Linked DNA regions of Homo sapiens. The protein of the gene in region 3 interacts with the protein of the main gene of each other region in a biochemical or structural test. Each region holds a gene or a part of one and is shown on either strand. Other genes may lie near its edges. The genes, in order: ALDH1A3, PSD4 and USP9X.

Evidence for each region.
Region 1: the proteins of USP9X (region 3) and ALDH1A3 form a complex in vitro, tested with the Homo sapiens proteins (one study listed by BioGRID).
Region 2: the proteins of USP9X (region 3) and PSD4 form a complex in vitro, tested with the Homo sapiens proteins (one study listed by BioGRID).

What each region holds. Positions count from the first base shown.
Region 1 is NC_000015.10:100,886,213-100,889,866, forward strand, and holds part of ALDH1A3 (retinaldehyde dehydrogenase 3), read left to right. Parts: intron 1-1,359; coding exon 1,360-1,500; intron 1,501-3,654. UniProt on the Homo sapiens protein: Catalyzes the NAD-dependent oxidation of aldehyde substrates, such as all-trans-retinal and all-trans-13,14-dihydroretinal, to their corresponding carboxylic acids, all-trans-retinoate and all-trans-13,14-dihydroretinoate, respectively.
Region 2 is NC_000002.12:113,187,403-113,191,056, forward strand, and holds part of PSD4 (PH and SEC7 domain-containing protein 4), read left to right. Parts: intron 1-3,654. UniProt on the Homo sapiens protein: Guanine nucleotide exchange factor for ARF6 and ARL14/ARF7. Through ARL14 activation, controls the movement of MHC class II-containing vesicles along the actin cytoskeleton in dendritic cells. Involved in membrane recycling.
Region 3 is NC_000023.11:41,231,791-41,235,444, forward strand, and holds part of USP9X (ubiquitin carboxyl-terminal hydrolase 9X), read left to right. Parts: intron 1-596; coding exon 597-734; 3' UTR 735-3,654.

The DNA.
Region 1 (3,654 bases), on a different chromosome or scaffold from region 3:
ACCCCCCTCTGTGTGGCACCTCATGACAGTTAGGCTCTGCTAACAAAGAAAGTGGCACAGAGGAGCTCATAGAAAAATGTGAGGGCATTGGGGGGAAGCCATGACATGGAATGGGGTTTCCACTAGGAGACTCCCAAGTGCCCCGTACAGGTGCTAGGAGGAGAACGAGACCCTTGCCCTGGGCCTTGATTTCTCCCTTGGTCTGAGTGACTGTTCTGAGCCAGAGGCCACCACACCCTCTGCAGCTGGAAAGGTCCTGGCCTCCACCCCAGAGCCTGGGAGAAGAAATTCAGTGTCCCACATCTCCCCTGCCAAGCTTCTGCTCACCCCCAAGCCAGCTCTGGACACACAGAGACTCGGTAGAGTCACTCCTGACTGGTGTCCCACATCCACTCCCTGCTGTACCTTCCTAGAAAGAGAGAGGCATGGAGGGGCCTTCGAGATGAATGTGGCCCATTTTCCTGAGAAAAAGAGACAGTGACACTACTCTAAATGGCCCTCACTTCTTTCCTTTTAGAAAGAAGGTTCCGTTGTGATTATTCTATCAGTGCACAAAAGATCCAGTTCTGCTCCCATGGGGTGGGTGAGGCTGAAGGGAGAAAAACGGCCTTCATGCTCCTCCCTGTCTGCGAACTGTTCCACGATGGTCAGTTCTGCAATCCAGAAAGGAAGGAATTTCCCCATTCTCACTCTTGGACCACAAGTTCCCAGCTGGGATCAAATGCCAGGCAGACACTTCCCACCTGATCTGTGAACAGCAGGCTCGTGTGCGTTCACACTGAGGCAGCCAGTGGAAAGTCCTTCCGTACTTGGGTCCCTGAGAAAAATACTCTTTAGGAAATATTTTTAAATGCTTTTTATAATCAGAAACAAACATTGGTATTTGGCCACTGTAGAAATATTAAGATGTAAAGAAGAAAAAAAATCACTTGAACGCTCCCAGCCATTCAAGTGATTGAAAAACATGCTGCTGCTTGCAGCCTGTCTGCCAGCGGGACAATCTGCTGTTCTCTATAACTGATGGCCGTGGTCCCAAACTGCAGTCACGTCAAAAGATGACACCCAAACTGCAGTCACCTCAAAAGATGACACCCAAACTGCAGTCACGTCAAAAGATGACACCCAAACTGCAGTCACCTCAAAAGATGACACCCAAACTGCAGTCACCTCAAAAGATGACACCGAAACTGCAGTCACTTCAAAAGATGACACCCAAACTGCAGTCACGTCAAAAGATGACACCCAAACTGCAGTCACCTCAAAAGATGACACCCAAACTTCAGTCACGTCAAAAGATGACACCCAAACTGCAGTCACGTCAAAAGATGACAGTCTCTCTCTGTTGTTCTGGTCGCTCAGCCCGACGTGGACAAGGCTGTGGAGGCTGCACAGGTTGCCTTCCAGAGGGGCTCGCCATGGCGCCGGCTGGATGCCCTGAGTCGTGGGCGGCTGCTGCACCAGCTGGCTGACCTGGTGGAGAGGGACCGCGCCACCTTGGCCGTGAGTACATGCACTTGGGGGCCGGTGGGGGATGAGCCAGCCTCACTGAGGGTCCTGTCCACCATGGGGTATGGGAAAAAAGATCACGGTCCTGGTTTTGTGTGGTCGTGGGTCTGTTCCATCCTCTGAGACACGGCTCTCTGGCAATACTTGCAGGTGTTAATGCCTCTAGACTGAATCCCTTTCATTTTGAAGTCAGACTTTTGTCCTCTGCAGCTCAGCTTCTTGACCAAGTTGTTGTCTATAGGCAGTTGAGCTACATCAGTGGTCTCAGACTTGGGGCACTCACAGATTGGTGACCATGAGCTGGGCCATATCCTGGTACCACCTGTGTGTTTATGTACTTAACTTTTTTCTTTTTTGTATAAACTTCCTTTTATTTATTTTATTTTATTTATTTTTTTGAGACAGAGTCTCCCTCTGTCACCCAGGCTGGAGTGCAGTGGCGCGATCTCGGCTCACTGCAGCCTCTGCCTCCCAGGTTAAAATGATTCTCTTGCCTCAGCCTCCTGAGTAGCTGGGACTACAGGTGCCTGCCACCATGCCCGGCTAATTTTTATATTTGTAACAGAGACAGGGTTTCATCATGTTGGCCAGGTCTTGAACTCCTGGTCTCGAACTCCTGGCCTCAGGTGATCTACCGGCCTTGGCCTCCCAAAGTGCTGGGATTACAGATGTGAGCCACTGCACCCAGCCTTAACTCCCTTTTAAACTTAAGTTTAATCTCATCCTAAGAAACAATATTCATGAAATCACAGGTTTGATGTGCTAATTTTATTTTTCTAATACTTACCAAAATAAATGCCACCACTTAACATAGAAAAAATTGTTCCCATGTGACCTAAAATCATTCCTCAGTCACCCCTGAACTGGCTAGTAGCGAGCATATGTGGAGCGGTGGTGAGGGCAGGATAGCCTGGTTATAGGAAACCTCAGAATAGGAAAGACCTGGGTTCAAATCCCCACTCTGCCACTTACTAGCTGTGTGACTTTGGACAAGTTGTGAAACCTCTCTGAGATTTATTTCTTCATGTAAAATGTCACCGATAATGATAACTCAGTGGTGTAAGAATGATCTATTTAAGATTCTAGGCAGAGTCCCTGGCAGGCAGTAAGCACTAAATAGATGACAGCTATCATTAATAATAGCAGTTATCATAATGAGGTCATGTGAAGACCCATTTTCTAACCTCACCTACATGCACTGCTGGCCAGTAATTTCTAGATACCCTAGGTGGGGATATTGATGGAGCATACCCCATGAGGCTGAGCTGCCAAGGCATTCATCAGTTGTAAGTCCATTTTTTAGCAGGATCCTCAGACCCTCCTCTGGTCATGAGGGAGTGATCAGAGGACATCTCAGGGCCACGTTGGGCCATGAGGTCCTTTGCATCCTGTCCTTGCCCATCTCAGCCTCTTGTTTTTAAAAGTTGTTCCAAACCTTGAGGCCCGGTTGTAGGGGAGGAGATCTCCTTTCTGGCCTTTGATTTGGAAAAATGGTTTTTCTGATGTCGGGAACAAGCAGTAGGGTAGCCACTGTTTAAAGGAGGGTGTCAGCCAGGACACGGAAATTGCTGTTGCCCCTGAATGTGTTTCTCAGGGTGGAGGAACTCTCAGGCCGTACTCTTGGGTGCATTTCCCTAAGGGTGCATCCACACAGAAACTCGAGCTCCCCTTCCTTCCTTCCCAGTCAGCCCGGCCAGTCCACATGTTCCCCGGGTGAGAGTAGCTCCCTCCCAGGGTAAGCGCTTCTCTCTGAGGAGCCTCTGGTTTCTTCCTGCAACGTAAGCCAGCGTCAACCCTCAAGCTGCCAAACTGGCTTTTTCAAAAACATTTCTGTTTTCACCCGGCATGAGCTCATCGGTCGGCAATGTCCGTGTGGACTAATAGCAGGCTAGAGAGGATGTGCCCTGGGCACCCCCCGCCCTGAACCCTGTCCTTAAGTGTCAGTATCATCTTAGGAGCAGAGGCTACAAAGCCACCTTCATCTTCAGGCTGCCCCATTGTCCTGGCACGACTGTGTTTTGATAGCAGACAGCTTTGGAGGATCTCAGAATGCAAACCCAGCAAATCACTTCTGCCACTGGCACCTCGCAGCCCACGAGAAATAAGATCCAGCTCTTTGCCACAACATGAAAGGGACAAGAGAATTAC
Region 2 (3,654 bases), on a different chromosome or scaffold from region 3:
AGGCTGTAAGGGGGCTGAGAACAGGAAGCTAGGTGGGCTCTAGTAATGGCAGCAGCTGGGGTAGTTCAGGAGGTGGTCCTCAGCCTCTCCCTTCCCCCACCTAGCAGCCTGGATGACAAGGAGACTGAGTGGTGACCTATGACCCAGTGTGAACAGGTCCGGGTGACCCCCAGCCGACTCAGAACCTCCCAGTCCAGCACTAAGACTCTCAGATGTCACTCAATCCAATCTAAACCTGACTCTTCTGCTTCCCCCACAACGTCACAATCAGGTATTCTAGTTATTTAAGCATTCATTATCCAAGTGACACAGGAAGTTGAACCAGTAAGCAGGAGTCATCATAATATGAAAACGTTCCCTGATAAACAGACGAATAACATTAGGTTTCACTTAAGCACCCTCTCCACCTAACACAGACGGGTCAGGGTCTTTGCTGGTGACTTCTCACTGCCTCTTGAGGCTCATGAACACTACATAATGCAGGAGAAGCACAACAGAAGCTAACAGAAAAGTGTAAGTACAAATCCTGTCAAAAAACATGATTTCATAAGGTCTGTGAAAGTGATGTTGAAAGACCTCACAAGTCACGTGGAAAACCACTGACAAATCGGGAACCAAAAGAGATTGTCCAGTGAACAATGGAAGAGGAGAAAATAAAAATAAAGAATAAATTGTCACATCTAAAGAGAATTACTCGAAAAATCAACTGACGAAGCCCTAAAATATGCTTTTAAAAATGACCTAGTCAATTAGTGTTGTTACTAAAATAATACTTAGATGAGGGAGCACTTTGAAAAAAAAAAGTATGCAAATATAAATTATCATAAAATTGTACCCTTTATTTTTTTGTTTTGTTTTGGGACAGAGTTTTGCTCTTGCTGCCCAGGCTGAAGTGCAATGTTGCGATCTTGGCTCACTGCAACCTCTGCCTCCCGGGTTCAAGTGACTTTCCTGCCTTAGCCTTCCGAGTAGCTGGGATTACAGGCGTGTGCCACCATGCCTGGCTAATTTTTGTACTTTTAGTAGAGAGGGGGCTTCACCATGTTGTCCAGGCTGGTCTCGAACTCTTGATCAGACTTGTCTTGAACTCTCGAATCCACTCGCCTCAGTCTGTCAAAGTGCTGGGATTATAGGCCTGAGCCGCTGTGCCTGACCTCACTTTATTATTTTATTTTATTTTATTTATTTATTTTTTTGAGATGGAGTCTCACTCTGTGGCCCAGGCTGGAATGCACTGGCGTGATCTCGGCTCACTGCAAACTCTGCCTCCCAAGTTCAGGCCATTCTCCTGCCTCAGCCTCCCTAGTAGCTGGGACTACAGGCGCCCGCCACTGCGCCCGGCTAATTTTTTGTATTTTTAGTAGAGACGGGGTTTCCCCGTGGTCTTGATCTCCTGACCTCGTGATCTGCCCGCCTTGGCCTCCTAAAGTGCTGGGATTATAGGCGTGAGCCACCACGCCCTGCCTATTTTATCTTTTTAACTTGAATTTTCTTTTCTTTCTTTTTTATAATTTTTATTTCCATAGGTTATTGGGGAACAAGCAGTGTTTGGTTGCATGAATAAGTTCTTGAATGGTGATTTGTGAGGTTTTGGTGCACCCATCACCAGAGCAGTATACACTGCACCCTATTTGTAGTCTTTTATCCTTTAACCGCCTTTCACCCTTTACCCCTGAGTCTCCAAAGTCCACTGTGTCATTCTTATGCCTTTGCATCCTCATAGCTTAGTTCCCACTTATGAGTGAGAACATAGGATGTTTGCGTTTCCATTCCTGAGTTACTTCACTTAGAATAATAGTTTCCAATCTCATCCAGGTTGCTGTGAGTGCCATTAATTCATTCCTTTTTATGGCTAAGTAGTATTGAATCATATATATATATATTCAATAATATATATGCATATTCAATCATATATGTGATTCAATTATATATAATTGAATATATAATAGTATATATATATATATACACACACACATACACACCACAGTTTCTTTATGCACTCATTGATTGATCGGCATGTGGGTTGGTTCCATGCTTTTGTGATTGCAAATTGTGCTGCTATAAGCATAAGCATGTGTATGCAAGTATATTTTTCTTATAATGACTTATTTTCCTCTGGGTAGATACCCAGTAGTGGGATTGCTGGATCAAATGGCAGTTCTACTTTTAGTTCTTTAAGGAATCTCCACACTGTTTTCCATAGTGATTGTATGAGTTTATATTCCCACCAGCAGTGTAGAAGCGTTCCCTATTGACCTCATCCATGCCAACGTCTATTTTTTGATTTTTTGATTATGGACATTCTTGCAGGAGTCAGGTGTTATTGCAGTGTGGTTTTGATTTGCATTTCCCTCATCATTAGTGATGTTGAGCATTTTTTCATATATTTGTTGGCCATTTGTATATCTTCTTTTGAGAATTGTCTATTCATGTCCTTAGCCCACTTCTTGATGGGATTATTTGTTTTTTTCTTGTTGATTTGTTTGAGTTCATTGTAGATTCTGGATATTAGTCCTTTGTCAGATGTATAGATTGTGGAGATTTTTTCCCACTCTGTGGGTTTTCTATTTACTCTGCTGACTGTTCCTTTTGTCATGCAAAAGCTCTTCAGTTTAATTAAGTCCTGGCAATTTATCTTTGTTTTTATTGCATTTGCTTTTGGTTCTTGGTCATGAAATCCTTACCTAAGCCAATGTCTAGAAGGGTTTTTCCAATGTTATCTTCTAGAATTTTTATAGTTCCTGGTCTTAGATTTAAGTCCTTAATACATCTCGAGTTGTTTTTTGTGTAAGGTGAGAGATGAGGATCCAGTGTCATTCTCCTTCTTGTGGTTAGCCAATTATCCCAACACCATTTGTTGAAAAAGTGTGTCCTCCTTGTGGCTAGCCAATTATCCCAACACCATTTTTTGAAAAGTGTGTCCTTTCCCCACTTTATGTTTTTGTTTGCTTTGTTGAAGATCAGTTGGCTGTAAATTGTACACTTTAAATGAGTGAATTGGGCGGTATGTGAATTCTATTTCAAAACAGCTGTTATTATTATTATTTTTTTGAGACAGGATCTCACACTGTTGCCCAGCCTGGAGTGTGAGGTACAATCATGAATCACTGAAGCCTCAGCCTCCCAGGCTCAAGTGATCTTCCCACTTCAGCCTCCCAAGTAACTGGGACCACAGGCGTGTATCACTACACCCAGCTAATTTTTACTTATTTTTATTTTTTATGGAGATGTGGTCTCACCATGTTGCCCAGGCAGACCACAAGGCTGGTCTCCAACTCTTGAGCTCAAGCAATCCTCCCACCTCGGCCTCCCAAAGTGCTGGGATTATAGGCATGAGCCACTGCACCCAGCCTGTTACTGTTTTTAATGGCCTTTATGATCTTACTGTGAAAATCAAGGATGAATGCAAGATGTCTTATCCAGCCAGAAAACTTGTGCTGGGAAAATTAAATTTTAGGCATTGTGTTTACTATAAGATTTAAATAAACTTATTTGTACATTTACCAAGATAAAGCTCCAAGTAAACCTTTTCATTATTTACTATGAAAGTATGTTCTCATTTTAGTTAGATTTAGTTACTTCTATTTTGGGTTGGGTGAACTTTAATTTTTGGCATGAAGAAACTTCCCTTTTCAGAGGCTGGAACTTCTCTGG
Region 3 (3,654 bases):
GAAAAATGAGAGCACTGTAGGGTTCAGACATTTTAAAAGGTTAAGGAACCAAATCCACAAGGAAGGTTAACTTCCTTTGACCCTGAGAAAGCTCTTATGTTAATCATGCCTGGTTACTTTATCATCTTGAACATTGTTCTGTTTTTAATCAGCATTATTGTGAGTTCAGGGTTACTGCTCCTATATATCTTACATCATGGTTAGTCAATCGGATTTAGCATGTGGAAGAGTCAATAGATGCTCATAGATCATTCTCTGAAAATTTTTTACCAAGAGCAACAGTGGGTTAATCCTTTATTTGCCAGACTTGAGTCTAAATAATTTTTGGCACTAAAAATCACTTTGGCCAAAGATTTATGTGGACCTACACAATCACTGCTCTTATTCAGGGTTTTGGGGTTTGCATTTACACTACGTTTTTCAAGCCTTTTTTTGTTTTTGTTTTTGTTTTTGTTTTGCACTATAGTAGTCCAAGGGTATTTACAGAGTAAGTCCCAAGAATAAGAGTATACATTTCCAGAGACTTCAGACCATGATTTTGAAGTTGTTTTACTATGTGAAAAGTTTTAACATACAGATCTTTTCTCCTTTCCCAGAATAACCATGTGCATGGACAGCCATATACAGGCCCAGCAGCACATCACATGAACAACCCTCAGAGAACTGGCCAACGAGCACAAGAAAATTATGAAGGCAGTGAAGAAGTATCCCCACCTCAAACCAAGGATCAATGAAATGCACATAATTAACTGGTTCCATCAAGACTGTGCACCCAGGCCTTACAGTCCAACCTTTTTCTGTGTCTGGCTAATATTTAAAACTAGAAAAACTATTCCTAATCAACATGGAGTGGAGAGTTTATTCACTGTCTTATCTGCAGAAATTTGCTGTCAATATATAACCCGCCTGCAGTGGAAAGTGTATAGTGTTTTGTAATAAATGGCCTGATGCTAATGTGTAAATGGCAAAGGTGTATATAGTATATTAATGTTGACTGTTAATTCTTAAGCAAGAAACTTTTTTCTTGATGAGACTCACAGATCTACACAAACTACAAAAGTTAATTTTCTTGTTACACCCACTGCACTCTGCAACCAGTGTTGCCTGCCTCATGGCAGTTGGATCAGCTCCTTTACAAAAAAGAAAAAAAAAAAACCAACAGCAACAAAACAGAGCCCATCCATGTCAGCCACACCAATAGTTTCATGTTAATTCTTTGCCACTGGAGTCAATTTTGCTATGAGCAATGTAAGGCTGGTAACCTTTAAATTATTTGGTTGATGTGGAAAATTGGTGATGTAACACTGTTTCTAGATTTTTTTCATTGCCTTTTTATTCTGATATTAGGTTAATCACTTTGAAGCTATAGTTATGCTGTAACATTTAGCATGGCTTCACACCAAGTTAGTGTAGCCAATGAGGAAAAAGTTACCATAATGACAGCAGTTGTCCGAGAAGTGACAGCTGTATTACTCAGAGCTTTTACTTCTTACACCTAGAATATTAAAATATAAAACAAGGGGAGAAATGTGACAGTCTATTTTCAGTTGCACATATGTTCCTTATATATAATGTTTGACAGTTCAATCTCTGGGTGGAATAAAGAACACTTACGTATCAGTAATGGGAATTTTTAAAGATTTAAAACAAATATGCAAAAATTTGCTATGCCAAGATGCTGGAGCATAATATAAGACTGTATTTGGTGTGCTTGTTTTGTTTCTTTGGTAGAGTTTATTAGGTGAATCTTCTAAAACTTTCCTTCTGTTGGATCCCAGTGACGTGGAAGTCATCAGAACCCCACGGTACTTGGAGTACCTCTCTGCACCAAGATAGCTGGCTGATTTTCTGCTCAGTCACAATTTTACTTGAAAGCAAGAATTGTCCTAGCTCCTTTTCCATTATTCCAAAACGTTTAACGTTCAAAGCAGGGTCTCATTAAAAAAGAAACTACTGGTTGATATAATTGAGATATTACAATTTCAGAATAAACATTTGATTAAAAATAAGGAAATCCTCAGTTCATACTGTATTTAAAAGAGAATTGGTAACTTGAATGTGTGTAATTTTTTGGAACCTGTCTAAAAACCAAATACCCCTGCAAACAGATACAGCCCACCCTATTCTATTTAAATATTTTGCTGTTTTATTTTATAGAAATTATTTTGCTGAATTCACAAATAGAATTTGATTTAAGAAGAACTTTTTGTCCTGTGGTGTGTTTTTGGTTTTTTTTTTGGTTACTTTTTTTGTCCTTTTTTTTTTTTTTTAAAAGAGGACTGCATATTAAAATTCATTCTGTGCATAGCATGCCTAGGCATGACACTGATTCAGGATTTCAGTCACATCAAGTTTTTGTGCACAGAAAGATTTGACCTTTGGCCCTCTACTGAAGATTTTGAGAAATCAGGATGTTGACACTGTAAAAGTTTCCTAACATAATCTTGTACTTTTTGTATGTTTTTTATATACATGTATATTTAATGAGCACAAGCTTGGTTGTATTTTTTACAATTCAGTTAATAGGGAAATGTTTTGTCAAAAGGCTACACTTGGAACTGAACAAAGCAGAAACAAAATTGAGCATTGCATTATTTTGTGATTAAAAGGGGCAGGTATTTAAGATAAAGCTTTGGGTATCTTATTTGTAGTACTGTATAGTCAACCTGTGCTTCTAGGTGTTCCTGTAGGACATTTTGACACCGATACTTTGAGTGAAAGTCACACACGGTGTTTGCAATTCCAACTGATTTTTGTTTTGTTTTTATTTTTTTGTTGTTTTCTTCTTTGAGATGGAGTCTTGCTCTGTCACCCAGGCTGGAGTGCAGTGGCACAATCTTGGCTCACTGCAACGTCGCCTCCTGGGTTCAAGCGATTCTTCCGCCTCAGCCTCCCGAGTAGCTGGGATTAGAGGTGCCCACCACCACGCCCAGCTAATTTTTGTATTTTTGTAGAGACAGGGTTTCACCACGTTGGCCAGGCTGGTCTTGAACTCCTGACCTCAGGTGATCTGGCCGCCTCGGCCTCCCAAAGTGCTGGGATTGCAGGTGTGAGCCACCGCGCCTGGCCCCAGTTGATAGTTTTTTTAATTTAAAAGTTCCTCAATTCCAAGCTCTTTAAACGAGTGAAATAGGTTAACTTTATTTGGATGAGTTAGGTGTACCATCTCACCATCTGAGAGGAGATTTATATATTTCCTGCTGCTCCTTAACAAAATATGTAATGTACTTAAAAACTTTAACGACTTCCTAGTTGAGAGAAAACTTGACATATAAAAGGCTGTGAATTTTTCTGCTTGGAGGAAGAGCCCAACCTTGGTTGCTTTGAAGTTACAAGCCCCCTTGTGCCAGGTGAGGGGCTTGTGAGTCATTTTTGTCTCCATTTGAGGAAGAGTGGTATTCGTTGTGACTAGGAGCAAGGGAAAGTGGAGTTATTTTTGTTTGTGCAAATTATTTTCTATATTTAACTCAAGCATTAATGTATAACCAGAAATTTAAAGATGCATGTTGTTGCAAGAGCAACATAATGGTGATTTTGAGGTCTTTTTCTGAACACAAGTGGCACATTTTAAATTTCAAGTCTTCAAAGTGCCTAAGGATTATTTAGTTCTCCCTCAACTGATTTTTTGAGCCATATATTTCCTATTTTAAATGT